3 linked regions of the Homo sapiens genome follow. The protein of the gene in region 2 binds, or shares a complex with, the protein of the main gene of each other region. Each region holds a gene or a part of one and is shown on either strand. Other genes may lie near its edges. A codon is read from its position in the direction of its gene.

The links.
Region 1: the proteins of KHNYN (region 2) and ZC3HAV1 are in contact, whole or in part, in a crystal structure (PDB 9BGL), measured with the Homo sapiens proteins. Residues at the interface, in NP_001277186.1 of Homo sapiens: His651, Lys652, Asp654, Phe655, Gln658, Arg659, Pro661, Tyr662, Asn677, Phe678; in NP_064504.2 of Homo sapiens: Glu5 (codon at 5,301), Val6 (codon at 5,304), Cys8 (codon at 5,310), Phe9 (codon at 5,313), Lys12 (codon at 5,322), Ile13 (codon at 5,325), Ala16 (codon at 5,334), His17 (codon at 5,337), Glu29 (codon at 5,373), Ile30 (codon at 5,376), Ala31 (codon at 5,379), Leu32 (codon at 5,382), Leu113, Glu115, Phe118, Ser127, Gly128, Leu129, Asn130, Glu133.
Region 3: the proteins of KHNYN (region 2) and NEDD8 are in contact, whole or in part, in an NMR structure (PDB 2N7K), measured with the Homo sapiens proteins. Residues at the interface, in NP_001277186.1 of Homo sapiens: Gln649, Asp650, His651, Lys652, Asp654, Phe655, Gln658, Arg659; in NP_006147.1 of Homo sapiens: Thr9, Lys11, Glu12, Ile13, Glu14, Glu32, Lys33, Glu34, Gly35, Arg74.

What each region holds. Positions count from the first base shown.
Region 1 is NC_000007.14:139,104,921-139,114,619, reverse strand, and holds the start of ZC3HAV1 (zinc finger CCCH-type antiviral protein 1), read left to right. Parts: upstream 1-4,899; 5' UTR 4,900-5,288; coding exon 5,289-5,596; intron 5,597-9,699.
Region 2 is NC_000014.9:24,430,829-24,440,244, forward strand, and holds part of KHNYN (protein KHNYN), read left to right. Parts: coding exon 1-103; intron 104-634; coding exon 635-1,782; intron 1,783-1,893; coding exon 1,894-2,024; intron 2,025-2,107; coding exon 2,108-2,204; intron 2,205-3,271; coding exon of another isoform or gene 3,272-3,332; exon of another isoform or gene 3,333-3,543; intron 3,544-5,239; coding exon of another isoform or gene 5,240-5,243; coding exon 5,244-5,351; intron 5,352-5,559; coding exon 5,560-5,661; intron 5,662-6,207; coding exon 6,208-6,457; 3' UTR 6,458-9,254; coding exon of another isoform or gene 9,255-9,416. Other genes in the region: epimerase family protein SDR39U1, read right to left, coding at 9,255-9,416.
Region 3 is NC_000014.9:24,226,524-24,236,352, forward strand, and holds the start of NEDD8 (ubiquitin-like protein NEDD8), read right to left. Parts: upstream 5,845-9,829; 5' UTR 5,745-5,844; coding exon 5,727-5,744; intron 5,345-5,726; exon of another isoform or gene 5,129-5,344; intron 1-5,128. Other genes in the region: NEDD8-MDP1 protein, read right to left, coding at 5,727-5,744; GMPR2 (GMP reductase 2), read left to right, coding at 6,677-6,817, 6,956-7,075, 9,214-9,297, 9,444-9,617. UniProt on the Homo sapiens protein: Ubiquitin-like protein which plays an important role in cell cycle control and embryogenesis via its conjugation to a limited number of cellular proteins, such as cullins or p53/TP53.

The sequences.
Region 1 (9,699 bases), on a different chromosome or scaffold from region 2:
TGGGCTAGCTTAATATGTGGGTACAAGCTGAAAATGCATGGCAGCTATATTACAGTCTCACTCAGGGAAGTCCTTGAAAAACAGTGGTAAGGGAAAATCTCCCCAGCGGGAGGAGCTTTGAGAGTGTACCTAGTCATCACTTCGTATGGAAGGAGTATGGCCTAGGGTTAGAACATACATGGTCTCATGGGCAGTGATGGTGGCCTGGCTGGGAGTTTGGGAGCCTAAAAGTAAAAGGAAGCATATGAATAGATGTATGGAAGTGGGCAGTTCATATCACATTAAGACCCACAAAAGATGTGCCAACTACACAAAATAACTTGGCCAGTTAATGTTGGCCAGGCTTAGTGACAGGCCCCCTCCCCCACTGCTGCTCAAAGAGGCCATGGTGGCCAGGAGATGGAAGCGATGCAAGAACCTAACAGCATAGATTATCATTTGCCAAAATAAACACAGCTACTGCCACCTCTGAGTGTCTGATCTGCCAGCCATAAAGACCAATGCTAAGCTCTATTCCTTAAGGAGACCAATAGACTACTTGGGGACCAGTAGACTGCATCGGGCCCCTTTTGTCCTGGCAGAACCATCGGTGGTTCTCACAAGAAGAGGCAGTTATTCTGGATTTGGGGTTGCCCTTCCTCCCTGCAGAGCCTCAGTAGTAGCACTCTTTTTTTTTTTTTTTAGATGGAATTTCACTCTTGTTGCCCAGGCTGGAGTGCAATAGTGCGATCTCAGCTCACTGCAACCTCTGCCTTCTGGGTTCAAGCGATTATCCTGCCTCAGCCTCCCAAATAGCTGGGATTACAGGCGTGTGCTACCACACCCGGCTAATTTTGTATTATTAGTAGACACAGGGTTTCACCATGATGGTCAGGCTGGTCTGGAACTCCTGACCTCAAGTGATCCCCCTGCCTCAGCCTCCCAAAGTGATGAGATTACAGGCTTGAACCACCGTGCCCGGCCAGTAGCACCACTTTCTGGAGACTTAAAGATTGCCCGATCCACAGACATGGAATCACACTTAACATAGCATCTTATCAGGTGAATCTTTTCATGGCACAGAAAGTGGAGGGAATGAACCCATGAACATGGTACTATCCATGGTCCTATCATACACTTCACCACCCAGTAGCTATAGGATGAAGTATTGGAATGGCTAGTTAAAGATGGAGTCAAGCACCAGAATGGAGCTGATACCCTACAATGATGACACAGACTCCAGAACATCGTGGTATATGCCTTGAATCGGTCAAGTTAGTATGGTACTGTGTCCATACATGAGTCTGGAAAGAATGGGTAAGCCTGAGTGGCCCTACTTAGTATAATTCCAATGACCCCCTGCAATTTCCTCTCCCAGCAATGCTGGGCTCTGCAGAGTTATAGGTCTTGGTTCCCCAAAGGGGCACACTCTTGCCTGGAGATACCACAGAGATCCCACTGGACTACTGTGATGGCTGTCACCAGGTACTTTGGCCTCCTAATGGTCAGAGACTAGCAAGTAAGAAAGGGAATGGCCATCTTATTCGAGGTAACTGTTGCTGGTCAGCAGGAGGTGTGGCTGTTGTTACACAATGTGGGCAGGTGGAATATGTATGGAATTCTGGTGACCTATTTTGGTGTCTCTTGGTAATCCTTTGCCCAGCTGGGACTGAGATGTGCTCAGACCACTTTCAAATAGGGCACCCGACCAGATTAAGCTACTGAGAGCAGCTGAGGTGGTGGCCAAGGGTGAGAGGGATTGGAATGGATAGTGGTAGAGGGATATGATGAGGACCAGACCACCAGCTGTGGCCTTGAGACCAACTGCAGTGACAAGGACTATAGTTCATTCCACTAATTTCTCTCTGGTAAGCTTCCTTGTAGGAAGAGTGACCCTGAAAAGCCTGTTCCCTAAATACAAATGGATAAAGAAAGCCATGTAGTACAAAGGGTGGACTACAGCTGACACAGGGTGGCACTCAGGTCAAGCTTGCAGCCCAGCTTTGAGGAGCATGTTTAGCCAATATCCTCCAGCTTTAGCTCTTTCAAGATCTGCCCCAGCATTCGAGCTGAAGTCATCCACTTCTCTGGTGGCCCCCACCGGTGACTGAGCAAGGCAGTACAAGGGCCTAGCCTTTTCTGTCCAAAGCTGGACTCCTACTCCAGAGCTCCTCATTGGGCTGGCAGAGACTTTGTTAGGTCCGCACAAAAGTCTGATAGGCCCCATGGATCAATCATGCTTTTTCCTTTGACTTTTTCTGGCATTATGCCCCAGAAAAAGTGCAGAGAAAGTTCTGCACTCTTAACTCCATGTCAGGATCTCCTTCCTGGAGAACCCAATCTCTGATGGCACATATTTCAAAATTTTTCAAAATGTCTCCTTTTCCCTTCCCAGAACTCCTTAAATCACCTTTCTCTTTCACTTTCCCTTTCTTTTTTCCTTTCACTTTCCCTTCTTTTTTCCCCTTTTCCTTTTCCTTCCTTTTTTTCCTTTTCCTTCCTTTTCCCCTTTCCTTTCCCTTCTTTCCTTTCCCTTCCTTCCTTTCCTTTCTCTTCCTTTCCTTTCCCTTCCTTTCTTTCCTTTCCCTCCCTTTCCCTTTCCATTTCCCTTTCTCTTTCATTTTCACTTTCCCTTTCCCTTTCTCTGTCACTTTCCATTTCCGTTTCCCTTTCCCTTTCCCTCTCTTCCCTTTCCAAAAGGATCTTCCTCTGTTGCCTTTGCTGGAGTGCAGTGGCACAATTGTAGCTCACTGCAACCTTGAACTCCCGGGCTCAAGAAATCCTCCCGCCGCAGCCTCCCAAGTAGTTGGGACTACAGGCACATACCACTATGTCTGGCTAATTTTTATTTTTAGTGGAGATGAGGTCTCGCTATGTTGCCCAGGTGGATCTCACAGTATGTTGCCCAGGATGGTCATGATCCTCCCGCCTTGGCCTCCCAAAGTGTTGGGATTACAGGCACAAGCCACTGCACCTGGCCCTTAAATCATTTTTCATGGCTTCAAATTGGAGGAGATTCTATGTCTGTACTCCCAACCACTGTAGCCAAACTAGACTCTTCAGTCTCTCATCTTCTATATTCCCATTGTGGCATTTACCCATGAATTTGCTTATATTTCCATGCATTTTTTCATGTCTTCGCATACATGCTCCTTGAGTGCAGGGACTGTTTTTTAAACTTCTGCATGTCCTTACATTACTAACTAATGTAAATACCACATAGAAGATAGTCAATAAACATCTAGAACTTAGTTGATTTGATAATAAAAGGTCCCTGGGAACCTGTCAGACCACAAATAAGGCCAAGTGGATTAAAAGACAACTATAGAAGCAGCAACTAGAGGGAACAAGATGTCCCTCTTAGACATCCTAAGATGATCCTATGTGGCCCCCATGTTTGGCTGGTTTTCATAACAAAGTACTCTATTCCTGAAAGAGGGTTTATATACCATGAATGACAAAACTGAGGAGAATTCTCATTAATCATTTTGAAGAATTTCTAAGTTAGCAACCAGAATCTATTATTTTTTAAAAAGATGTATTTCTTATCTGATCAAATGACCCATCTATTTTATTTGAAGATGTTGGAAAAAAAAACCTTTTTTCTCTTCAACTTGTGTCCTGTCTTTGGGGGCCTAAAAATTAACTGGCACTAGACAGATAAATAGGAGAAAAGACAAAGTTTATTTACACATGCATGCAGGAGCTTCCAGTAACAGAAAACTCAAAAGTAAAGGTTTATATACCTCAACTTAACAAAAAGGAAAGTTTTAGGGCTTCAGTAGGAGAGTTTGGAAGTTTTGATTGGGTTGTTTTGTGTTTTTGAGACAAAGTCTCAGCGCTATCCCCCAGGCTGGAGTGCAGTGGCACAATCCCGGCTCGTTGCAGCCTCCTCCCGTGCTCAAGCAATCCTCCCACCTCAGGCTCCCGAGTAGCTGGGACTGCGGCTGCACACCACCATGCCCGGGTTGTTTTTATTATTATTATTATTATTATTATTATTATTATTATTATTATTATTGAAGAGAGCTCACTATGTTGCCCAGGCTAGTCTTGAACTCCTGGGTTCAAGCAATCCTCCCACTGCCTCGGCTTCCTAAAGCGCTGGGATTACGGGCTGAGCCACAGCACCCAGCCCATTGGGTTTTTTGGTGCTAATGGTAATGGGACAGTCTGTCTTCCTGGCAGCTGAATACTCCGAGAGGCTTTTAATGGCACCATGTTTTCGGGAGGTTTTGCTTTAGTCAGATAAGGGAAGTTTCATTAAGATTTCTTTCTACATCTTCTGTAGCTCAATGTTTTCACTTAAAAACAATCTTTATGTCAACTCTGGGGGTCAAAGTACGTCCCCACGGTGGAAAAGTTCTTGTCCCAATCTCTACGGGGAGGAACCGATCTGAAATCTTGGGATATGTCTTAGCATGTCCACCGTGATTGAGGTACAAGCAGTGGTTCAGGGCACCGAGTTAGCGATTCTAGGTAAGCAAGACCATGTCAAGAAGTGGTTTGTCCAAAAGTTCGTGAGAAGGCAGAAACGAGGGAGAGTGGCAATCGTTGTTCTTTAAGAGGGCACGGTGGTGGAGGAGAAACTTGCACATCGGGGCCTGGGGTACCACGATCTGGGGCCTGGGGACGCGATTTGGGGAAACTCGGTGGCATCTGGGCTCCGCTTGATGCCAGTGCGTGTTCGTGCAAGTTACTTCCTCAAGTTCAGGGTGAGGATAATAATATCTACCATGTGGAGTTGCTGGGAAGATTCACTACCAACAGAGGCAGAGCGCACGGCTCGCAGGAAGCGCTCGCTAGGGTCTGCTCTTTCCGGGAATGGGTGGGGTGCGCACTCCTCAACAGGGCTCTCAGGACTTGCGTCACACGCCTCAGTCGGCTGGCTTATAAAACACCGGCCAGAGCCCCAAGATCGCTTTTAGTTTCTCTTCTTTCTAAAGAAGGCTCGCGGAGCCCGGCTGGAGAACCTCACCCTCGCCGAGCCTAGAACCGAGAGGGGGCCACCCCAGGCGGTCACCAGCAGATTTGCCCGCGCGTTCTCTTTCTTTCCACCCAGTTGCCCTTGCGGCCGGCTGTAAACCTGCCACTAGGACCCGGTCGGTGAGATCTAGCCTCTTGACCTGAGAGCCGAGAGTGGATCGCTGGGCTGGGCTAACGGCGACGGAGAGCGCGCCCTCGCTGACTCCGGGCGCGCCCAGCAGTAGCACCGCCCGCGCCCGCCCCTGGACACTTGTAAGTTTCGATTTCCGATTTCCGCGGAACCGAGTCCCGCGCCGCGGCAGAGCCAGCACAGCCAGCGCGCCATGGCGGACCCGGAGGTGTGCTGCTTCATCACCAAAATCCTGTGCGCCCACGGGGGCCGCATGGCCCTGGACGCGCTGCTCCAGGAGATCGCGCTGTCTGAGCCGCAGCTCTGTGAGGTGCTGCAGGTGGCCGGGCCCGACCGCTTTGTGGTGTTGGAGACCGGCGGCGAGGCCGGGATCACCCGATCGGTGGTGGCCACCACTCGAGCCCGGGTCTGCCGTCGCAAGTACTGCCAGAGACCCTGCGATAACCTGCATCTCTGCAAACTCAACTTGCTGGGCCGGTGCAACTATTCGCAGTCCGAGCGGTGAGTGCACCCGGAGGGAGGGGCGCTGTCCGCAGCCGTGGTCGGGGTGGACTGTCCAGGCGGGCAATGTTCTGGGAGGGGCACGGCTTCGCCGGGACCCCGCACCTGACAGCCTCCGCCTCCAGCCACTCCCTTCTCTGCTCCCCTCTGGGAGCCTCTGCAGGGCCCGCGCTTCTACCTTTGCAGTTCCCTTCCTTCCGGCACCTCCAGACATTTTCTCGAGAATGGCTAAAATGCTAGTGCCTGGAGGAGACCAGGCTCAACCTCCACCCCTTTCCCCGCCCGCCCGCACGAATCAGAAGAATAAAGTGCTCTGGAGCCAGCCAGGGCCTAGAGAAGCGGTAGGCAGGTTTGGGAAGGAAGGAAAGAGCCTCCCGTCTTTGGTATCTTGAGTCTTTCCCTCCCTACTACCTCCTTCCCTAGACGTGGCGGAGCCAGTAACCCAGCCGCCCTGGGCCCCCGGTCCGTCTCCGCCGGAGCGAGCCGCAGGTCTCTCTGCTTGTCCCTCCCTTCCCGGTCACCCCCATGCCCCTCATCACCGCTTTTCTGATGCCTGGCGCGTAGCAGGGGTGGCCCTTTTCCAGGTTCCTGAAGTTGTAGCAGCCGCGGGCCTTCCCTCCGGGTGGTCTCTCTACGGTGGCGCGCGCAGTTGACCGCCTGCCTTGGGACAACTCTCTTAAATCCCTTTGAAGCAGTGTGGCTCACGTCTCGGGCCACTGCTTCTGTTGTTTCCGTTTGCCTTTTTTTTTTTTCGTCTAAATGCAGATGCGCTGCAAGGTTTGGGTTAAGACTCTTGAGTGATTTTCTTCCCAGTTTCTCCCTAAGAGAGCTTGCTCCCTCGAGGACAGCTGCACATCTAAAAAGATGGCTTCCAGGTCCACATTCGCTGCCCAGGCCTTTCCCTTGATCCCAAGCCCTTCCTCTCCCGCGTGTGTCCTGTCCATGGAGTCAAACTCATCTTTTCCCCCAGGCAGGGTTTTAATCCTCCTCACAATCTGTCATCACCAAGTCCTTTTTGTGAAGTCTCTTTCCCTTCTTGGCGGATTCTGCCTTCCCATCTAATTTCTGAATGAACTGAATGAACGCCTTGTTGAATTAATGAATGGCCAGTCTTTCCTCCCACCCTTTCTGTCACTATGTGCTCTGCTCAATTACTTTTCTCGATACAGTACTTTTTACACTTGGCCCATTCTTAAACACTTTGACTTGTGTCCCAGGGTTTAAAATGGTTGTCAGCAAACTTTTTAGGCTGGAGTGCAGTGGCTCCACCTCGGTTCACTGCAACCTCCACCTCCCAGGTTCAAGCGATTCTCCTGCCTCAGCCTCCCGAGTAGCTGGGATTACAGGCATGCACCATCGCACCCGGCCAATTTTTGTATTTTTAGTAGAGACAGGGTTTCACCATGTTGGCCAGGCTGGTCTCGAACTCCTGACCTCAGGTGATCCACTTGTCTCAGCCTCCCAAAGTGCTGGGATTACAGGCATAAGCCACCAAGTCCGACCAGTCGGCAAACTTTTGATCACGCACCTAACAAAAACTCCAGTCACTCACCCCCAATATACGTGTAATAAAACACACAAAGGTAAGTGTTTTAGATGGATGAGGTAGAGGACGCAATGTATTTTTTTAAAAATTTCTTTAGAGCAAAAACCCTTTCAGCTCACTCTAACGTTTTTAAAAAGTGCTTGAATGTGTTCCTTTATTTAAAATTTTCTTTAATATGTTGTGGGGCAACAATTTGAAGGTTGTTTCTGAGTTGCTGGGAGTTATGGGTATCGAGGAAATCATCTAAGTCATTGCTGGTCACTGAAGAAATCTCTGAGAAGGAGAAGAGAGCAGAGGGTGGAGGATAGAAAAGGAAGGAACATTCTAGCATGTTCTAGCACTACACCAAATAACATGGTTGGAAGGCTTTGTTATGTTTTTTCTGTTCTTATCTTTTCTATTATGACAAATTCTTCACCAACTAGTGTTGATTTTTAGTATGAAATACATATGCTTTTTATTTTTTTATTTCTTACTATGGATATTTTCAACATACTCAAAAGTAGAGAGAAAAAAATGATGAAGCCCCTTGTACCCATCATTTCAACAGTTTTGAAAATATGGCCAGTTTTGTTTCATTTATTCTCCCTATTCCCCATGTGTCCCCAACTCCAATGTGTTATTTTAAAGCAAATCTCAGCAACCATTTGATTACTAAGTACTTTAGTATCTCTAAAACATAAGAACTATGTTTTATTAACATAATACAGTACAATGATCACATTTTTGTAAAAAAAATTACAATTTTAATATCATCTATTGTCCAGTTGGTATTCAAATTTCCCTGATTGTCTTATAAATCCAACTTTTATTTTCAGGGAAAAGGATACATAGACATAATCCTTTTAAAAAAAGATTTTTTTAAAATTTTTTGAGATAGGGTCACCCAAGGCTGGAGTGCAGTGACCCGATCTCAGCTCACTGCAAACTCTGCCTCCCAGGTTCAAGCAATTCTACTGCCTCAGACTCCCAAGTAGCTGGGATTATAGGTGTGTGCCACCATGCTTGGCTAATTTTTTGTATTTTTAGTAGAGATGGGGTTTCGCGATGTTGGCCAGGCCGGTCTCGAACTCCTGAGCTCAAGCGATCTGCCGGCCTAGGCCTCCCAAAGTGCTGGGATTACAGGCCTGAGCCACTGCCTCACCTGGCCTATAATTGTTTTCATATGTTACATATCTAACATTTAAATACTTTGTTTCAATTTGTTGTAGGCAATATGCTTAGAAATTTTAGTTTTATGAAGTTTATTATGGTATATTTTTCCCTGGTTTGAAACAGCAAAACTGTTTTAAACTCGTTAATTGGGTTGTTAACCTCCACTTTTATAAGAATATATATAATATAGGGATTATTTGGTCTATCTAAATTTGGATGGACCCTCCAGAGAAGTCAATAAAGTTTATTTTTTTTAGTAGAGTGATAAAATCTTATTTCCTAACATTTATTGGCAGAGCCATATTTTTAATTTCATTTTATATCACTTTTGAATTTGGGAATTACAAACTTTTAATCTATTAATGTATAAAGTGTTGTAATAAGGACCTCTGGGAGAATTTTTTTTTTGTCCTCGGGTCCTAGAAAACATGTTTTTTTCCTCCCTACTTATGTTTTAAAAATATTCTCCTCTTAGCGAGTAATAAAACCTTGTCTTCCAAAACTTGCCACTTGTGAGTTTAAGAACTTTCTTTGTAGATTACCAGTTAATGGGGTCTGTTAACTAATTGATACCCATCTTGACATTACTATTCAGTTCACTAAACTGGTCTCTGTTTACAGGGGGACGATTTGCATTGTGCTGGGTGTATAAAATTTTGTCTGTGGTACTATTATTTATAGATAGGATTTATCCTGTCTATTCTGTAGTTCCTGTCTTTTCTTTTGCAATGTTTTTAGTGATACATTTTAGTTGACAACAGGGCTTGCTTCAATGTTGGATAATTGTTTTGGTGAATCGGTTTGGATATTTCTATTTGCTTTGCTGAAATATATGCCCACACATGGAGTTCTAATCCCACTTCTGATGCAAAAATAATCACTATTTATCGAACAAATAACTATGTGCCAACCACTATGATAAGCACTTTGGAGATGATATCCAGGTTAGTCTTTAGGATAGCTCCTAAGGTAGTATTTTAAGTCCCATCCTTATTGTAGGAAACTCGGGCATGGAGCCTTTCAGAAATCTACTGAAAGTAACATAACTAGAAGCTGGCAGGATTGGTATTTGAACCTAGATCTGCATGACTTCCTTTTTTTTTTCTTTAGAAATGAGATCTTGCTTTGTCACCCAGACTGAAGTGCAGTGGCACGGTCATAGCTCACTGCCACTTCGAATTCCTAGGCTCAGATGATCCTCCTCCCTCAGCCTCCTGAGTAGCTGGGACTACAGGTGGGCGCCACCATGTCCGGCTAACTTTTCTTTTCTTTTTTTTTTTTTTTTTTTTTGAGACAGAGTCTCACTCTGTCACCCAGGCTGGAGTGCAGTGGCGTGATCTCAGCTCGCTGCAACCTCCGCCTCCCCGGTTCAAGCGATTGTCCTGCCTCAGCCTCCCGAGTA
Region 2 (9,416 bases):
CATCTTCAGCGTGGGGGTGAGCGTCCTTCCGAAGGACTGTCCGGACAACCCCCACATCTGGCTGCAGCTGGAGGGCCCCAAGGAAAACGCCAGCAGAGCCAAGGTGAACGCCTTCTCTCCCCCATCCCTCCAGGCACCAAGGACGCTTTCCCCCAGGGCGGAGGAGAGCAGGGCCGAGGAGAGCAGGGAAGAGGAGGGGCCTGGGGAGGATCTCCACTTCTTGGTTGTCTCACTGGCAACCTCAGTGCCCCTGAGTTTTGAGGGACTTTCCAACTCTATATTTGTTTTCAGTTTCAGCTTAATTTCTTCTGTGATGGCCCAGGCTGGCAAAAATCATTCTGTGCTCTTTGGGAGAATAGAGATATCTGGCTGAACAAGTTGGCCCCACCAAGGAATGCACTGTGGGGTGGGAGGCTGGGCCACATTGCTTCCTTTGGGATTAGGCTGGGGTTCCAGGATGGCTCAATCATGTACCAGCTTTGTGATGGGAGTCTCAGTTTCCTTATCTCTAAAATGGGAATAACATCATGTGGATACTCCAGACATCCTGGAGCTCAGGAGCGAGCAAGGAGCCAGGAGGGGTGATCTGGGCCAGTTAGTTTACTTTTCCTGACCTTCCCTTCCTCCCAACCAGGAGTACCTGAAGGGCCTCTGCAGCCCAGAACTGCAGGATGAAATCCACTACCCGCCCAAACTGCACTGCATCTTTCTGGGAGCCCAGGGCTTCTTCCTTGACTGCCTGGCCTGGAGCACGTCAGCCCATCTGGTGCCCAGGGCGCCAGGCTCACTGATGATCAGTGGCCTGACTGAAGCCTTTGTCATGGCTCAGAGCCGGGTAGAAGAGCTGGCAGAGCGGCTGAGCTGGGACTTCACGCCAGGACCATCTTCCGGAGCCTCTCAGTGTACTGGAGTGCTGAGAGACTTCTCTGCCCTGCTGCAGTCCCCGGGGGATGCCCATAGAGAGGCTCTGTTGCAGTTGCCCCTGGCTGTCCAGGAGGAGCTGCTGAGTCTGGTGCAGGAGGCGTCTAGTGGGCAGGGGCCAGGAGCACTGGCTTCTTGGGAGGGGCGGAGCTCAGCCTTGCTGGGTGCTCAGTGCCAAGGAGTGAGAGCTCCCCCTAGTGACGGCAGGGAGTCCCTGGACACTGGATCTATGGGACCCGGAGATTGCAGGGGAGCAAGGGGAGACACTTACGCTGTGGAGAAGGAGGGAGGGAAACAGGGTGGTCCCAGGGAGATGGATTGGGGGTGGAAGGAGTTGCCTGGGGAAGAGGCGTGGGAGAGAGAAGTGGCCCTCAGGCCACAGTCAGTGGGTGGAGGGGCAAGGGAGTCAGCACCCCTGAAAGGGAAGGCCCTGGGGAAGGAGGAGATAGCTCTGGGAGGAGGAGGGTTCTGTGTCCACCGTGAGCCTCCCGGTGCCCATGGCTCCTGTCACAGGGCAGCTCAGTCCCGAGGAGCCTCCCTCCTCCAGCGGCTCCACAATGGGAATGCCTCTCCTCCGAGGGTGCCCAGCCCTCCACCTGCACCGGAACCCCCATGGCACTGTGGAGACCGGGGTGACTGCGGAGACCGGGGAGACGTGGGGGACAGGGGAGACAAGCAGCAGGGCATGGCACGGGGTCGGGGGCCTCAATGGAAACGAGGCGCCCGAGGGGGCAACTTGGTGACTGGCACACAGCGTTTCAAGGAGGCCCTGCAGGATCCTTTCACCCTGTGCCTTGCCAATGTGCCTGGCCAGCCAGACCTCCGCCATATTGTCATTGACGGCAGCAACGTGGCCATGGTGTGAGTACCTGGTGGGGCTAAGGGCCTAGGAGAGGGAGGATATGTCCTGAGGGGCTGGCATTGTAGCCAGGGTGCCAAGCCCCTCCTCTGGCCGACCCCCTCCCACTACAGGCATGGCCTCCAGCACTACTTCTCCAGCCGGGGCATTGCCATTGCTGTGCAGTACTTCTGGGACCGTGGTCACCGTGACATAACTGTCTTTGTGCCTCAGTGGCGCTTCAGTAAGGATGCCAAAGTCAGAGGTGAGTTGGGCCTGGTCTTCAGTGTCCCAGGATAGGCTCTGTTTCCACTTTGAGGAGAACCCTATTATGTTCTTTTTCAATAGAGAGTCACTTCCTGCAAAAGCTGTATTCCCTCAGCCTGCTCTCCCTCACACCCTCACGAGTCATGGATGGCAAGAGGATCTCCTCCTATGATGACAGGTACTTGCTCCTCTCCTGGCCCCAGGCTTGATATTGAAGGAGCCCTATGGAAGACTGAGGGAGAGAGAAAAGCTCCTGGTGGTTTACGCTGTTTCTAAGCCTTGGTGGTGGGTAAGGGGCCAGTTATTCCTCTGTGTGCCTTATGATTGGGTAGGTAAACCTGCCCTGCAGGTGTGATGAGATGAACTGTAGACAACCATGTTTGTCTATTCATCATTCATCAAACAAAATGATACCTTGTATTTATATAGTGCCTTACTGTCTAGAAAATACTGGTTTAGTGGAAAGGTGGGAAAGCTGGTTACATAAGTAGCTGACAGATGTCTTCTTATAACCTGAATTTCCAAACATGCAGAGAAATTTCCCTAACATTCTGGAAAAACCAGAGTAAAGGTCAAAATAACAAGTAAAATGGAGAAACACAACGCATGAATAATAGGACTGTACAAAACATGGTATAATAGAAAGATCACTGGATTTAGAATTGGAAGATCTGAATTTGAGCCTCAAGTAGCACTACTCATTGACTTTGACTGTGGAACTTTTCTTAGTGAATTAACCTCTTTGTCTCAGGGTCCTCCTCCATTCATTTACCCTCCTTGTGAATATACGAAAAAGATAAGGTATGTGCTTGCCTTGCTCAAGGTGCTAGGCAAGAGTACAGTGACATTCCATCCTAACTTTGCACAGACCTACTCAAGTGTGGCAGCGGGTATATCTCCAATCTACAGTCGTGGAGACAGAGGGTCAGAGTGGTTACCTGTCTTAGCAAAGGGGAATTAGACCTCAAAGCTGCCAGATGGTTTGAATGAAAATACAAGGCACACTTCTACCATAGTCTGCCTAGGTGGTGTGAGAAATGAGCAGATTTTAGAAAGCCAAGTTAAAAAATTTACAAGTTCTTTATTCTCTAGGACATTATACAGTTTTTAAAAATTAGTTTTTCCAAACCATAGTGATTATATACTTTGTCTTTTCAAACACTTACCTTCTATTCCTTAACAAGCAAATGGTATTCTACAAAAAAGCAGTTTACGTTCTCCCAATGTTATTCTATTTATATCTAGATGTCACAGATTACCCAAGATATGGAATCTTCTTTCCACACCTGCATTGAAACAGAATTGAAACTGAAGATTGAGTTCGTTTTAATGAATGTTAAAGGCATGTGTCTGCCCAGTTGTGTGGGACCTGGTTGGCAGATAACATAATATAAATTGGGAATTCGCCCAGTAACAGTGAATAAGCACAGTGGTACACAGCGTAGGCATACGGAATGAATGTTGCTGAACAACATACTGTGTAATGCGATCATAGTAAAATATGCTTAACTGGAAAATACCATTTGCATACCATAAGTGTACCATATAATTTTTTTTTGGTTTGTTTTTGAGACGGAGCCTTGCTCTGTCGCCACGCTGGAGTGCAGTGGCACGATCTCGGCTCACTGCAACCTCTGCCTCCCAGGTTCAAGTGATTCCCTTACCTCAGCCTCCCGAGTAGCTGGGACTTCAGGTGCATGCCACCGTGCCCAGCTAACTTTTTGCATTTTAGTAGAGATGGGGTTTCACCATGTTGGCCAGGGTGGTCTTGATTTCCTGACCTCATGATCCGCCCACCTCAGCCTCCCAAAGTGCTGGGATTACAGGCGTGAGCCACCAAGCCCGGCCATAGACATTTGTATGTCATTCCCTTAATTTGTTTCCCAGACAGAAGCTCAGAGCCTGATATCTGTCACACCTAATCCTGACTCCCAGTTCCCCCTATACCACACTATCTTTCAAATACTGACTGCTCACTTAGTACTAGGTGCATGGCCTGCAGGAGGAGGTGGGAACACTGGGAACAAGATCTGATTCTTGACTAGAGAGCCGAAAGAAACCATAAATCAAACACTACAGGAACTCAGAGGGAAAGGAGCCCCATTCTGGCTGGGGTTTTGTGGGAAAGGAGAGATTTGTGAGTTTTTGTGTTGAGAAGACTGGGATGGGTTGGATCTCTGTTTCTAAATCTGTTAAAAAGACCACCACCCATCACTTCATGAGTCCTACCCTGTCTTGTGGAATCAGAATTACTGAATGGAGCCCAGGCATTTTTTAAAAAAGTTCCCTTGGTAATTCTGTTCCTTAGCAAGTCTTGGGAAGTGCCTTCCAGATAGAGGAAATAGTTGGAGAAATATGGAAGTCAGCATAAGACATATGTGGAGAGCAGAGTGTAATCTGATTATTGATTTTAGCTGGAGTTGAGAGTGGGTTAGGGAATATTGGGAGAGATAAGGCTGTAAGGGTGATTTGAGCTGGCCTGTAGAAGGCCTTAGCTGCCAGGCCTGGGTGTGTGGACTTTATTTGGTAAATAAAGGGCAAGTGTGGAAGAGTTTTGTGTAGGTGATAAGCATGCTTTCTTGGGGCAGGGCAGGGGAGACTGGAGGGTGGGTGAGTGGTCAGAGGCGGGGACCCCCTTGTTAGGAGGTTATGCATAATCTCAGTTGCAATATCTGAATTACTGGGGTGGTAATGGTGGGCCTGGGAAGGAAGGGAGCAGAGCACAAGGCTTTTCAAAGGAAAGGCATGTTGGATTTGCAAGGGATTGGTTGGGCAGGGTGGAAGACAGAGCTAGATCTTACTGTTTACTAACGAGGCACAAAGTGTTGGGTGAAGGACTATGGTTGGCAGATAGGATGCTACTGGGAGACCACCTTGGATTCATCTTTGTTTCCTCTCTAGGCCATGGCACTTGCATCTAGTCAGTTGCCTGTAGCTGGGTCAAGGTGAGGTAGGGGGCCAGATCTCCATCACCAGAAGTGGCCTATGGGAGACAGTAAAACTTCTGGGGTTGGGGCCTTGGAGAGTCCCAAATGGTTGCTGTGGTTTTTACTTTTATTTTTGTAGATTTGGGGGATACCAATACAGTTTTGCTACATAGATATATTGCATAGTGGTGAAGTCTAGGCTTTTAATGTAACCATGATCCAAACAGTGAACATTGTACCCAGTAGGTAATTTTTCAACCCTCTCTCGGTTGCTGTGGTTTTGGAGACAGGTTCATGGTGAAGCTGGCTGAAGAGACAGATGGGATAATTGTCTCCAATGACCAGTTCCGGGACCTGGCGGAGGAGTCTGAGAAGTGGATGGCAATCATCAGAGAACGGTGAGGGAGCCCTCCCGCTGAGAACTGGGCACAGATGCAGATGTTTTTCTAAAGCCAGCTCTGCTCTGGCCATGGGGTGAAAACTCTGGGAAGGAGGTGAAGTTTTCTTGAAGGATGGAGCCAGCAGCTTCTGGTGATACTGGTCTCGGTTGTCTGGGAGGTGGGCAAGGGCCCCCTCTGTGACCACACATTATCTTTCGCCATCCAGCCTGCTGCCCTTTACCTTTGTGGGAAACCTCTTCATGGTACCTGATGACCCACTGGGGCGAAACGGCCCCACCCTGGATGAATTTCTGAAGAAGCCAGCCAGGTAATCAATCCCCTAGACTACTTACAGGCAGCCCCCACCCCTGGCCCTCTCTCAGCAGGCCCAGAGACTTGGGTGGAAGTGTGACCTCAGTTTGGGCCAGCTTAATTTTGCAGTGGTTTGAGTTGCATTGGCCTTGGCCTTTATAAGCTTCCCAGGGGATCCTGACATAGAACCTCCTTGCTGGGAGGGAAACACCTGCTTCCTGTTTCTCTTAATCAGCATGTTTGATGGAGTTATTTGGAAAATGGTTGCTTATACTGACAGCCAGTTGTATTCAGCATGCCTTCTGCTGACCATTACATAAGTGATTCATTTAGGACTAGAACTAGATCATAATAGTGGCAGAGTTCACCCTGTTTCTAAAAGAACGGCCCATCTTCCCTTCAGAAGTGGGTTGATACTGCCACTCAGTGGTCAGCTTCAGGAACTTCAGGATTTCTCCCCCAAAGCCAGGAATAGGCAGGACAATTACGAGAGGGGTGCCCACTAAGATCTAATTTCCCCCCCAGGATGCTCATCAGCTCTTTTTGGTCTGTTTCTTCCCAGGACACAGGGGTCTTCTAAGGCTCAGCATCCTTCCAGGGGCTTTGCAGAACATGGTAAACAGCAGCAGGGGAGAGAAGAGGAAAAAGGTAGTGGTGGCATTCGGAAGACCCGGGAAACAGAGCGGCTCCGGCGGCAGCTGCTGGAGGTGTTTTGGGGTCAGGATCACAAAGTGGACTTCATCCTGCAGCGGGAGCCATACTGCCGGGACATCAACCAACTGTCTGAGGCCCTGCTCAGTCTTAACTTTTGAGCCTCACCTGCTTGAGTGGCTGCCGCCCTGTCAGCTCCAGCCGCCTCCAGCTCAGCCCTTTCTGTGAGAGTCCCTCTGCTGCTCACTCTGATCCAGAGGCACCCTGAGTTGGTGCTTTGGATCAGGGAAGCCACTTTGGGACAGGTCCATAAAGTGAACTGATCTTACCGAGTCAGGACCTCAGCCAGCTCTCAAGAGGTTCTGCTCAGCCTTAACTTCTCAACTTTGCCTTAGCACAGGGTTTCTGTAGGGAGTGGGGGCTGCTAGAGGGGATTAGTTCCGGAGACTGAGACTGTTGGCTCCACCTCCAAGCTGAGCTAGGGTGGAGGGCAGGGTGGGCAGGAAGTGACAGGAAGTTAAGCTGTTCCTCTCCCTGGCTGCTGCTCTGGATGGCCAGAGAACAAGATGCTCCCTTGCTGAGCTCCTGGGAGCGTGGAAGGAGATGCTAGGCCCTGGCACAGTGTTATGTGGACTGGGCCACGATAGGGTGGAGTGAGCTAGTGAAGAAGGCAGAGGGAGACTTGGCTTCTGGTCTCAGCTATGCCTGTTTTGTGACCTTGATTGAGTTGCTTGGGCTTTACTTCTGCCTACAAATCAGGGGTAAAAATACCTGTTGGGAGGAGAAATGAGAACATAGAGGAAAGCCTCTTGGAGGAAAGGTGCTTGGACCAAGTCTCAGGTGTGTCTGCCTGTGGCTGCACAGGCTCTCTAACCGAAACCTCACTTTCAGAGAGATGTGGGTCCTTTGTCTCCAGGATCCACACCCTAGATTTTAACACTGCATTCTCACTATAACGTGCCCTATAATGGCTGCATCCCTTTTGAGCAACCTCCAAAATCTACATTTACACAGTAGGTAAATTAGGGATGACTGCATTATCAAAATACTCTCAGGGTTCCTATAAATGGCAGCTCTCCTGTTGTATTCAGGTGTTGTTTACAGACTAACAAATGTGTTGGCAAATCCCTGGTTAGATGCACTTCCTGGTGTTGAGATGAACACGTCGATTTTTCACCAATCGATGAAGCCATGCTCTGCAATGACAATATTAATGTGATCCGACCCTAACATTTTCTCTATGGAAGACGTATGTTGCATAAAGCAAGGCACACTTCTGCTTTATGTGTGTGTGTATGGGGATGGGAGGACTTAACGGAAGTTGAACCAGTTGGTTCTAGATGAACCAATTATCTGGAAAATGAAAGAACCAGAGTTGGAAGGCACTTGACTGGCCACCAGACCAACTCTGCTGTTACTGACATGCTTTCTTCACCCTGATTCCTAGAGGTCATTGCCCTGGATCTGCTTGAAGTCCTCCTGTGCCAGGGAATTTACTATCTCCAGGGTAGCACATTCCCTGTGTAGACGGTATTAATCAGTACTCCTTACTTTAGTGCAGCCTAAAGTATGCTTTTCTGTTACATCCACCTTTGAGGCTGGTCATACCTCCAGGAACAATACAGAGCCAGTCAACTTCCTGGAATCCAAGACCAGATAAAGAAGTAGGACAGGTGCCCCTGGGTTCTGTTCTGTGTGGGCCTGTGGGGAGTCTCTAGACAAGATCTTTTCCAGGCCCTGACTTCTGCCTCCCTCTGAGTGGCACAGGGAGTTGAATACTGCATGGCGAGTGTAATGATGATGGGGAGGGTCCTTGTGTCCTCACCCCTTCCTTTTTGGTGATTTACACCACTGTACCATACTGACCCAGGCTGGGGGCAGGTGTGTTGGAGACAGGCTGGTCAAAGAGGTGACAATGATTAAGAGATAACCCAGCGGTCCCTGAGAAGAGATTGGTTAGTATGGCCTGAACTGGTGGCTGGGGGAACTGTGTCTGGTCAAGTTATGGCAGATGTCACAGCTTTAGGTAGGTAAAAAGGGTCCTAGATGAAAACCTTGGAGTTTTTTTTTTTCCTGATAGGGTTGTTTATACTTCTTGATTGGTTTCTTGCCATTTTCACTTTCAGTGATGGTGGGTGTGCAGTAGACCAAAAGTGTCTTCTGCCCTTTTGTGCTAAGGGCCCTGGTTGACTGAGTGGCCCCAGTCAGATGAGAGGCAAGTCCTAAGCTTCTTATAGACAGGGATGTTGACTTTGTTCTGCTGCAGCCTGATAAACTGGGACCACTGTGTGGTTAGTAATGCACTTGCCATTTGGTGACACAGACTGAAGGCTATCCTACACCTGGGCCTTACCTCTTCCTCTACTGGCATCCTAATGGCACTCTGACAGCATCCAGGGTGACTACAGGGCCCATTGGAAATGGATCATCATTCTCTCTTCTAGTGTCTATCTTTATCATAACCTGATGTCCCAAACTTGTGACAAGTTCTTTTGGCAACTGAAGGACCAAGAAGGGAAACGGTGATGAGAGAGACTGCTCATTGTAACTTTCAAAACCCCGTCTTTGGGGAAGAATCATCTAGGGTGACATTCCTTGAAGTAAATCCCAGGAGAATCTAGGCCAAAGAGATGAGCCAAGGTTAGTGAGACAATTTATTTTTATTGCCTAAACTGCAGAGCATTCTCTACACAGCGTAAAGGAGAAGTGGGGCAGCTGCAGGACATGTAGAGAAACCAAACTGGGAAATCTTACAAGGAGTTGAAAAGATTAATGTCCCAACCTGATGAGATTACGGCCTTGAGACAATAAGGTGGAGCAACAGAACAATGGGAAAGAGGACTGGGAGAGGAATCTAAGAACCAGATGGCTTCAGCTCTCTAGAGGAGCTGAGCCTATTCACAGTGCCTAACCTGGAAGCCTGTGAGGAACAGGCCTCAGGCCCTTGCCACGACCTACTTAGGCTACAATTTCCTTTAAGGCAGCCCCTAGCTCTGGGAAGGAATACTGGTAGCCAGTGGCCAGTGTTCGCTGTGGGATCACCTTCTGGCCCTCCAGCAGCATGATGGCACGCTGTCGCCCAAAGACAGCTTGCACCACAGCGCTGGGGAGAGGGATGAA
Region 3 (9,829 bases), 200 kb from region 2:
CACAAGGGGCAATGACTAAGTGCTATGGTGAATGAAAATCAATGTTAATCAATTTAAGCCTTGAATGAGATAACATTATATAACACTAGATATAGTGTTTTAATTTATATAACATTATAACACTATAATAGCCAAAATAAAAATGACTGACATCAGCATTTTTATGGTGCTACAAGGGTACCGTCTAGTAAGGGTACAGAGCAACTGGAATGCTCATACACTGCAGGTGGGAATATAAAATGGTACAAACCCTTAGTTTCTTTTTAAAGTTACATATATCTACCACATGACCTAGTAATTTCATTCTTAGGTATTTATCCAAAGGAAATAAAAACATATGTTTACAAAAACACTCGTATAACAATGTTCATAGAAGACTTTTTCATAATAGCCAGAAACTGGAGATAACTCAAACACCCATCAACAGGAGAATGGATAAACAAATTATGATATAATTCATCCAATGGAATACTATTCAGTAATAAGAAGGAATAAACCACAGATTACAGTAGACATTATGCAGAATGAAAGAAGCCAGATACAAAAATTGTACATTCAATAATTCCATTTATATAAAGTTCTAAAACAAGCAAAACTAACCTATGAAACTCTTGAGGGGGTAGGAATACAAATGTTTAGATTTTGTAATTACATGAACGTATGCTATTGTCAAAAACTCACTGAACTAAACCCTTAAGAACTGTGCATTTTACTGTATGTTAAAAAACATGAATGAGAAAACTGATTCACACAGTAAAGACAGTTGCCAAAGTAATCTGCAATGAGGAAATCAATGAAGGATCTGGGGTTAGGGAGTAATATAATGAAAAAGAAGCTAAAGGAAGACCTGCACATTATGGTTTTGTACGTCATGTCTTGGTTTAGACTACACTTTAGAGGGGATATGACGGTAGGAAAACCTGGTTGGATGTATTACAGAGACATAAACATATAAATGAGTAAGACCCGAGACCAGAATGAGGGTAATGGAGATGGAAACAAAAATCAAACAGAAAGAGCTTTTAAGTGAAAAATTAGATCTTATAAAAGGACCACGTAATTTTAAATGACTCTAAAGAATTGTATTCCAGACACCTGAATGATTGATGGGATTAATACACGAGATGGGTATTGGGATATGGCTTATGACAGAAGATGATGCATTTAATTTTAGAACCATAGAGACAAGGTAACAAGATTTAAATCAGGAAGAATTTAATTGTAAAATCTTATAGAAAAATATGGAAGAAGTCAGCTACACAGAGACAGCAGTTGAAAATGAATCATTCGGCTGGGCATGGTGGCTCACGCCTGTAATCCCAGCACTTCGGGAGGCCAAGGCAGGTGGATCACTTGAGCTCAGGAGTTCAAGACCAGCCTGGGCAACATGGTGAAACCCCACCTCTACTAAAAATACAGAAAATCAGCCAGGTGTGGTGGCATGTACCTGTAGTCCCAGCTACTTGGGAGGCTGAGTTGGGAGGATCCCTTGAGCCTGGGAGGTGGAGGTTGCAGTGAGCCGAGATCATACCACTGCACTCCAGCCTGGGTGACAGAGTAAGAATGTCTCAAAACAAAAACAAAATGAGGCCAGGCGCGGTGGCTCATGCCTGTAATCCCAGCACTTTGGGAGGCTGAGGTGGGTGGATCACCTCAGGTCAGGCGTTCAAGACCAGCCTGGCAAACATGGCGAAACCCCGTCTCTACTAAAATACAAAAGTTAGCCGGGTATGGTGGTGGGCACTTGTAGTCCCAGCTACTTGGGAGGCTGAGGCAGGAGCATCGCTTGAACCCAAGAGGCGGAGGTTGCAATGAGCCAAGATCGTGCCACTGTACTCCAGCCTGGGCGACAGAGTGAGACTCCATCTCAAAAGCAAAACAAAACAAAAATAATAATAATTCAAAAAGGGGTCAGATATGGTAGCTCACGGCTGTAATCCCAGCACTTTAGGAAGATGAGGTGGGAAGATCACTTGACCCCAGAAGTTTTAGACTAGCGTGGGCAACACGATGAGACCGCATCTCTACAAAAAAATAAAACAATTGGCTGGGTATGGTGGTAGCACACGCCTGTAGTCCCAGCTACTCAGGAGGCTCAGATGGGAGAATTGCTTGGGCCTGAGAGGTCGAGGCTGCAGTAAGCTGTGATGGCACCACTGCACCCTAAGCCTGGGCGACAGAGTGAGAACCTGTCTCAAAAAAAAAAAAAAAAAAAAAAAGGAACTGTAATAAAAAATGTCACTTATATGGTAATTAACAGCTCTTTTTTTTCTTTTTTAAATTAATATTTTCTTCAGATCAGATTAACAGCTATCTCATGTGTAACTACTTTCCTATGTATTTAATTAAGAAATGCAACAAACAAGAGGGGATGGGGCGAGAGGGGGAGATAGAGAGAGATGGGGCACAGAGGCCTGTTTGAAGGCAGAAGGGTGTTGCAGGAAAGAAGACTGGCAATTTTAGAGAAGTACCACATAAATATGGATTCAAAGAAACAGAAAAAATCTAGAATCTTGCTATTCAAAGTGTAGCTCTCAGACATTCAATATCACCTGGGAGTTTGTGAGAAATGCAGAAACCTGTGCCCCACCTTAGACCCACAGAATCATAATCAGCATTTTAGCAAGACCACAGGTGATAGGACACTGTATTTTCAAGTTTCCACACACAGCATTGATTTTTTTGTTCAAACAGTTATTTTATTTATTTATTTTTTGAGACAGTCTCACTCTGTTGCCCAGGCTGGAGTGCAATGGCACGATCTTGGCTCACTGCAACCTCTGCCTCCCAGGTTCAAGCAATTCTCCTGCCTCACCCTGTCAAGTGGCTGGGACTACAGGTGTGTGCCACCACACTCGGCTAATTTTTGTATTTTTAGTAGAGACGGGGTTTCACCATGTTGGCCAGGCTGGTCTTGAACTCCTGACCTCGTGATCCGCCCGCCTTGGCCTCCCAAAGTGCTGGGATTACAGGCGTGAGCCACCACGCCTGGCCTTTCAAACAGTACTTTTTAAACTGCAGGTCTCAACCCATCAGTGGGCAGGTCTCAACCCATCAGTGGGTTATGAAATCAACTTAGAATTGAAAGTCTGAGAGCATATCACAAATAGCAAAGTTTTTGTGCCTTATGGGTTGTGACATAAAATTTCTTAATGTGGAGTGAAATTTTCAAAAAGTGTACAAAACACTTAGCATTAGTAACTTAACTTCTTTGGACCTAGTGGACATGAGAACCCATATGCATTGAAAAGCCAACAGAAGTATTCAACAGGCCGGGCGCGGTGGCTCATGACTGTAATCTCAACACTTTAGGCGGAGGTGAGCGGATCACTAGGTCAAGAGATCGATACCATCCTGGCCAACCTGGTGAAACCCCGTTTCTACTAAAAATACAAAAATTAGCTGGGCGTGGTGGCACACCCTGTAGTCCCAGCTAGTCAGGAAGCTGAGGCAGGAGAATCGCTTGAACCCGGGAGGCGGAGGTTGCAGTGAGCCGACATTGCGCCACTGCACTCCAGCCTGGTGACAGAGGGAGACTCCGTCTCAAATAAAAATATTCAACAGTTAGTGTTTCTCAAGATTTTGACAGTGATCCATTCTAAAAATTAGTATGAACTAGTAACACCCCCTGTGTAATATACATATAAAATAAAATAAAAAATTTCAGGCCTGGCAACAGAGTGAGACTCTGTCTCAAAAAAAAAAAAAAAAAAAAAAAAAAAGGCCAGGCACGGGGGAGGGTGGCTCACACCTGTAATCCCAGCACTTTGGGAGGCAGAGGCGGGCGGATCACGAGGTCAGGAGATCGAGACCATCCTGGCTAACATGGTGAAACCCTGTCTCTACTAAAAATACAAAAAAATTAGCTGGGCGTGGTGGCAGGCGCCTGTAGTCCCAGCTACTCGGGAGGCTGAGGCAGGAGAATGGCATGAACCCGGGAGGCGAAGCTTGCAGTGAGCCGAGATGGCGCCACTGCACTCCAGCCTGGGCGACAGAGCGAGACTCTGTCTCAAAAAAAAAAAAAAAAAAAATCATAAAACAATATCCTTACCTAGCACTATATTATTTCCTATTTTCTCCCCCTCTCTCTTTCTTTTTTTTTTTTGCAGGGGGAGATGGAGTTTCACTCTTGTCGCCCAGGCTGGAGTGCAATGGCGCCATCTCAGCTCACTGCAATCTCCGCCTCCCAGGTTCAAGGGATTCTCCTGCCTTAGCCTCCGAGTAGCTGGGATTATAGGCGCCCACCACCACGCCCGGCTAGTTTTTGTATTGTTAGTAGAGGCGGGGTTTCACCATGTTGGCCAGGCTGGTCTTGAACTCCTCACCTTAGGTGATCCACCCACCTCGGCCTCCCAAAGTGCTGGGATTACAGGCGTGAGCCACTGGGCCCGGCCTTTTTTTTCAGGCAGGGTCTGGAGTGCAGTGGTGCCATCACTGCTCACCGCGGCTTCGACATCCCAGGATCAATCAATCCTCCCATCTCGGCCTCCCGAATAGCTGGGCCTACAGGCATGCGCCCAGACCCTTGGCTAATTTTTTGAATTTATTGTACAGGCAGGGTTTCGCCATGTTGCCCAGGATGGTCTCCAACTCCTGGGCTCAAGCGATCGGCCTGCCTCGGCCTTCCAAAGTGCTGGGATTACAGGCGTGAGCCACCGCGCCCAGCCTATTTTCTCTTTTTAATGGCGCCAGTGACCCATTCACCTATTAAATTGATGTTACGACTCTTATATAGGCCGCTACTCAACGTTAAAAAAAATCATCTTTAACATACTATTTTAATACTAGACCTCAAATCTTAGCTAAGAAGTAGTTTGGAAGGACTGGGGAAGAGAAGGTTAAGAATGACTATTATGTACGGTAAATATGCTAAGAAGCTGATGAAATAACGATAGATTTACTTAGCTACAAAAAGGCCAAACTAGCATTAGACTTCACTTGTCAGCAGTTTTGTTTTTTTGAGGGGGGCGTGGGGGGGGGGGTCTCTGTCTGTCTGAAGGCACAAAAGAGGAAACAGCAGATAGGACTAACGAGGGCTGGAAATTGGTGAAGAACCACCACGGGAGTTGAGAGATGCAGATGAAGGAAACCATGGCTAGTAGCAAGAACTAGGGCAGCGGTAACTAACCTGCCTCAGCCAAGGAAGTGAGGCTGGTCCAGGATGCCAGGCTCAGAAAGGCAGGTACTGACTGAACACACTCCCCGCTTTGGTTCCTGTAGGACGGGTGAGATACCACACCTTGGCAACCACCAGTAAAGGCTCATAGTCTAGCCCTTGGGAGGCCCCGATTTTAGGGCTGTGCTCGGAGGCGACCTACGTTAGGGACTGGGAGAAGCAGGTACCCTGGGAATGAAGAATGGAGAGCAGCGCTTACTCCAAGAATCTGAGAGACGGGGGAGTCAAGCCGCTGCTAGGCCTTCTCTATGACTGCGGGGGTTCGAATACAGTGAGACCCGACAAAAGCGACCCCATTCTGGGTGATAGCACAGTCCTGGCAAAAAAGCAGGCATGGCAAAATACCCCAGGGTCGTCAGGTGGGACCTGGGCCCCGCTCTCAAAGCCCTTCTGGGTCCCCCTATTTCCCACCACCCCTCGCGCGGAGCCCTGAGGCAGTCAGCGTCCTCCAGGCTAGGGAAAGGCGTGGTTTTCCTTCCCCACGTCTCCCGTAAGGCACTGCTGCCAGCCCAGTACTACTGCGTCTTGGCAAGGCTGGAGGTGCTCCCACCTTCACTTTAATTAGCATCTTCTTTCCAGTTTGGGGCTGCACACGGATAAATTGCTGCTCCTACCGCTCCGGTCGCCGCTGCCGCCCTCCAGCACTCTTGCCTGCAAGGGCCACTTCTACTTCCGGGTCACTGTCTGGCTCCACCCCCCCCCCCCCCCCCACTGGGTTCCGGAAAGGCTCAGGGTTGCTCCCGCGTTTCGGTTCAGTGACGTCGTAAATTGGAATGAGGCATCCAGTTTAGCAACAGCAGAGATGACGACTCTGCGATTCTGAGAGTCCCTGGCGAGCCCGGGCTAGCGAAAAGTGGGGGCAGAACGAACTACATCTCCCATCGTGCCAGGAGGCGGTCCCGCCCGTTTCCCCCTGGGAGTTGTAGTCTAACCCCCTCGGATCCAACAGCAACCTCAGTGCGTGAACTCTGTTATCCAGAAGGCCTCGCCCTGCCGCCGCCGAAGCTGGAATTCGTCGGCTAGTAGTTCTCGCCGGCAACTAGAGGAACCTGTTGGCGTGGCCCAGAAGGCTTAGCGGGATTGCACGAGGTTAGTTGCTAAGCAAGGTGGTCTTTGGTCAACTGCCGCCTGGACCAAGGCAACAGGAAGTGAGTACCTCTATTCCGGAAACTAGTTATGAACCCTCCCCGCCCCCCGTCGCCAACATTCCTTCGTTCCCCTAAATCAGCCTCTTGCCCCATTGCTCTTTGCAGGGGTAGAAGAAGGAAGTGTAGCGGGGTAAGGAATGCACCGTCAGGGTCTCTCACAACCCTTTCCCAGCTCTCCTCCCCAACAAACAGTACCTGGGATGGAGCCCTAGGGTAATCGCAGCCACGGGATGGGTCGAGGTGACAGGCTTCAGGGACCACACTTCGGCCTTTGCCCGACCTTCCACAACTTAAGCGAAGAGAGGCCACCAGCCGTAACAGGGCGTTAAAGCCCAGGGGAAGATTGGTCCTTATGACTTCCTGCCTTCCAGCCCTCAGATTCATCGCTACCCCGAGGCTAAGCGCCATGCCTCATATTGACAACGATGTGAAACTGGACTTCAAGGATGTCCTTTTGAGGCCCAAACGCAGTACCCTTAAGTCTCGAAGTGAGGTGAGCAAGCTTCTCTACTTGCTGTTTCTTGACCCCACGCTCCCGGTGGGCCACAACCAAGAAAGATGCCTGTCCTTGTCCTAATATGGTACGTTTTTTGGATTAATGAAATGGTCAATTTCCTGTTCATATCTGCAGGTGGATCTCACAAGATCCTTTTCATTTCGGAACTCAAAGCAGACATACTCTGGGGTTCCCATCATTGCTGCCAATATGGATACTGTGGGCACCTTTGAGATGGCCAAGGTTCTCTGTAAGGTAGGGCTTTCCTCATGCCCCATCCCTATTGGTGTCCAGTTAGCCCAGCTGACTGCAGAGGTGTTTGCATCCCCACCCCCATGCCCAGTCAGTTCTCTGGCAGTTAGCAGTCAGGATGCTCTGATTTACGGTTTTTTCCACTACTGAAGCCCTTTATCTGATAAGTTCAAAAGGCCATCTGAATTAGTGAGATTCAAAGCTAAGTTCTGCTCCGATATTTCTGATATATGAACAGAATTTTCCCTTTTGTCCTGTTTAGCAGTTTGTACACCTTGCCAACTTTTCCCACCACCCAGGTCACCCCCTCACAGTCACATGCATCCCTTCAGTTATGCGATTGTCCACATTAAGCATTCACTGTTTTAGTCCAGAAACTACAGTTTAAGCATTCAAAAATCCTAACTAGAAGATCCTAGGAGAAGCAGCTTATTAATTTTCTTTAATAAGAACAATTCATTAATAAAAGAATACTTCTGCCATTCTTTTTTTAATCTTCCTCTTCTTTAAGTCCTAGGTTCCTGGGAGTTTCTGGGATGTGCCCCAAATGGGATGTGTTTTTCTTATATACAAGTTGTTCACTTTGAAATGGAAGATGCTGCTCCTGTCAGTACTATTACCTGCCTCTATACTTGTTGCTGAGAAGGTAGAGAGTTATCTGGGCACTTTGAGAACATATGCACTCTGCTGGTTGATCCATGTAGCCCTGGTTGATGAATTCTGCTATTGTTTGTGGCTCCATTAGTCTTAAGGACTTCATATCCTTTTTCTATTTTTGATTGCTGTGTCTTTGTGGAATGTCTTGTCATTTCTTTAAGGTTGATAGTTATGCAGTTTTATTTTTACTTTATTTTTATTGCCATTCAGTAACTGCTTAGGAATCTTTCTGTTGCCCACTGTCCATCTGCCCTGACCAGTAGAGTTCAGAATTGGTGACTCTGACTGCAGAGTTAACAGGCGTGCTGTAATACATGAACCTTTTTGGGGACTGTCTTGATGCTTTATGTGGAGCCTGGCTTTCAGTATTGCTGACGAGAGGTAAAGAAATCAGGTTTTAGAGATAAGAGCCAAGTCTTACTGTAATAAAAAGGTTGGATGCAAGCAAACATCTTTTTCTAAGTTTGGTATGTAATCTGATGTGCTCATCATGCCACACTCTGCCAGTATATCTCCAACATCTGCTGACTTCCTATCCTATGGTGACTTTTCTTTGCTTATCAGTATGTTGATGATAGAGTTGTTGAGAAAGCAGAATTCAATACCAGCTTTAGCTAGATATTGTTGATCTCTGAGTACGTATGTAGAGCACTTGTTGCTAGCTAATACATGACTTCCTTGGGTTTCTTGTTAGTTGCAAGATTTGTGCTGTTTCAGCCAACTGCTGTCTCTTGTCTGTTTGCATGTAGACATGTAAGGCACAAACACCAGCATACACAATGGCCTTTGAATGCCTTCCTCAAAGTATTGGGATATTGTTTGCAATCTGTTGAGCTAGAGAATATGAGTTTGATGAGTCATTATGTCCTTGAACTTTATTAAAATGGACTGAATGAAACAGATTTTTTAGCTTGATCCATGTCCCCAACTAGGAAATTTGTCCTTTTTTCCACTAGAGATGGAGACAGGGTAGGGTAGCCCCTTATCAGCTCTTATCAACCTTAAGGCATTACCTTTGGTGAGCATCCAGATCTACTGAATTACTGCTGGTAAATGAACGAGAACATAACCAAAAATAGTTTAGTACTAGGTTACCTTAGGAGGAGGGGCTGAGTCAGTGCAGAGAAACACAGGCTCCATCCAGCTTCTTCATGGTTCTTTCATGTCTGCTGCCTGTCCCACTGCACCAGCAGCTTGTCACCTTTTAAGTCAGAAGCAGTGAATGTGCTGGCAGATGAAATCCAACCCAGATCACTCAGTACTTTGGTGGGAAATCTGACAAGTACTAGCTTATGGTAAAAAGCCCTACTAGTATTTGTAGAGAGAAGAAAGGTTGAACTCAAATCCCAGCTCAACCTGAGTTCTTTGACTTGTTTCCTCCCCAACTTCAATCATGTCCTCCCTCAGATAGAATAGGTCTGTTTCTAGAAAAGAGACCTTAATAAAGTTTTCTCCCTTTTGATGCTTCTTTGTCTTCTCCCCAGTTCTCTCTCTTCACTGCTGTCCATAAGCACTATAGCCTCGTTCAGTGGCAAGAGTTTGCTGGCCAGAATCCTGACTGTCTTGAGGTAACACTGGGCATACCCTGCTCCCTTCCTTATCCCAGTTTTCCAGCAATTATATTTTGGCTTTCTGGGGACCAGCACTCACCAATGACCCACTGGCTGCCCACCAGATCATCTCTGATATGCCAATGACTCTGTTTCTCCCACAGCATCTGGCTGCCAGCTCAGGCACAGGCTCTTCTGACTTTGAGCAGCTGGAACAGATCCTGGAAGCTATTCCCCAGGTGAAGTATATATGCCTGGATGTGGCAAATGGCTACTCTGAACACTTTGTTGAATTTGTAAAAGATGTACGGAAGCGCTTCCCCCAGCACACCATCATGGTATGTTTCTATTACAGTCGGTACCTTTTTATCTTTCCACTTTCCTGCCACTCCGTTTTGCTACATCAGTCCATTTCTCCTCTGCTGCATTATGATATTCCTAGTTCATTTAATCATGATACTGGATGATTATCCATAGTTCTAAGCTGAAAATGTCTATTTGGTCAGTGTAGTATCTCTGACCCTTGGTTCATAGTCTTTGTAAATCTGAT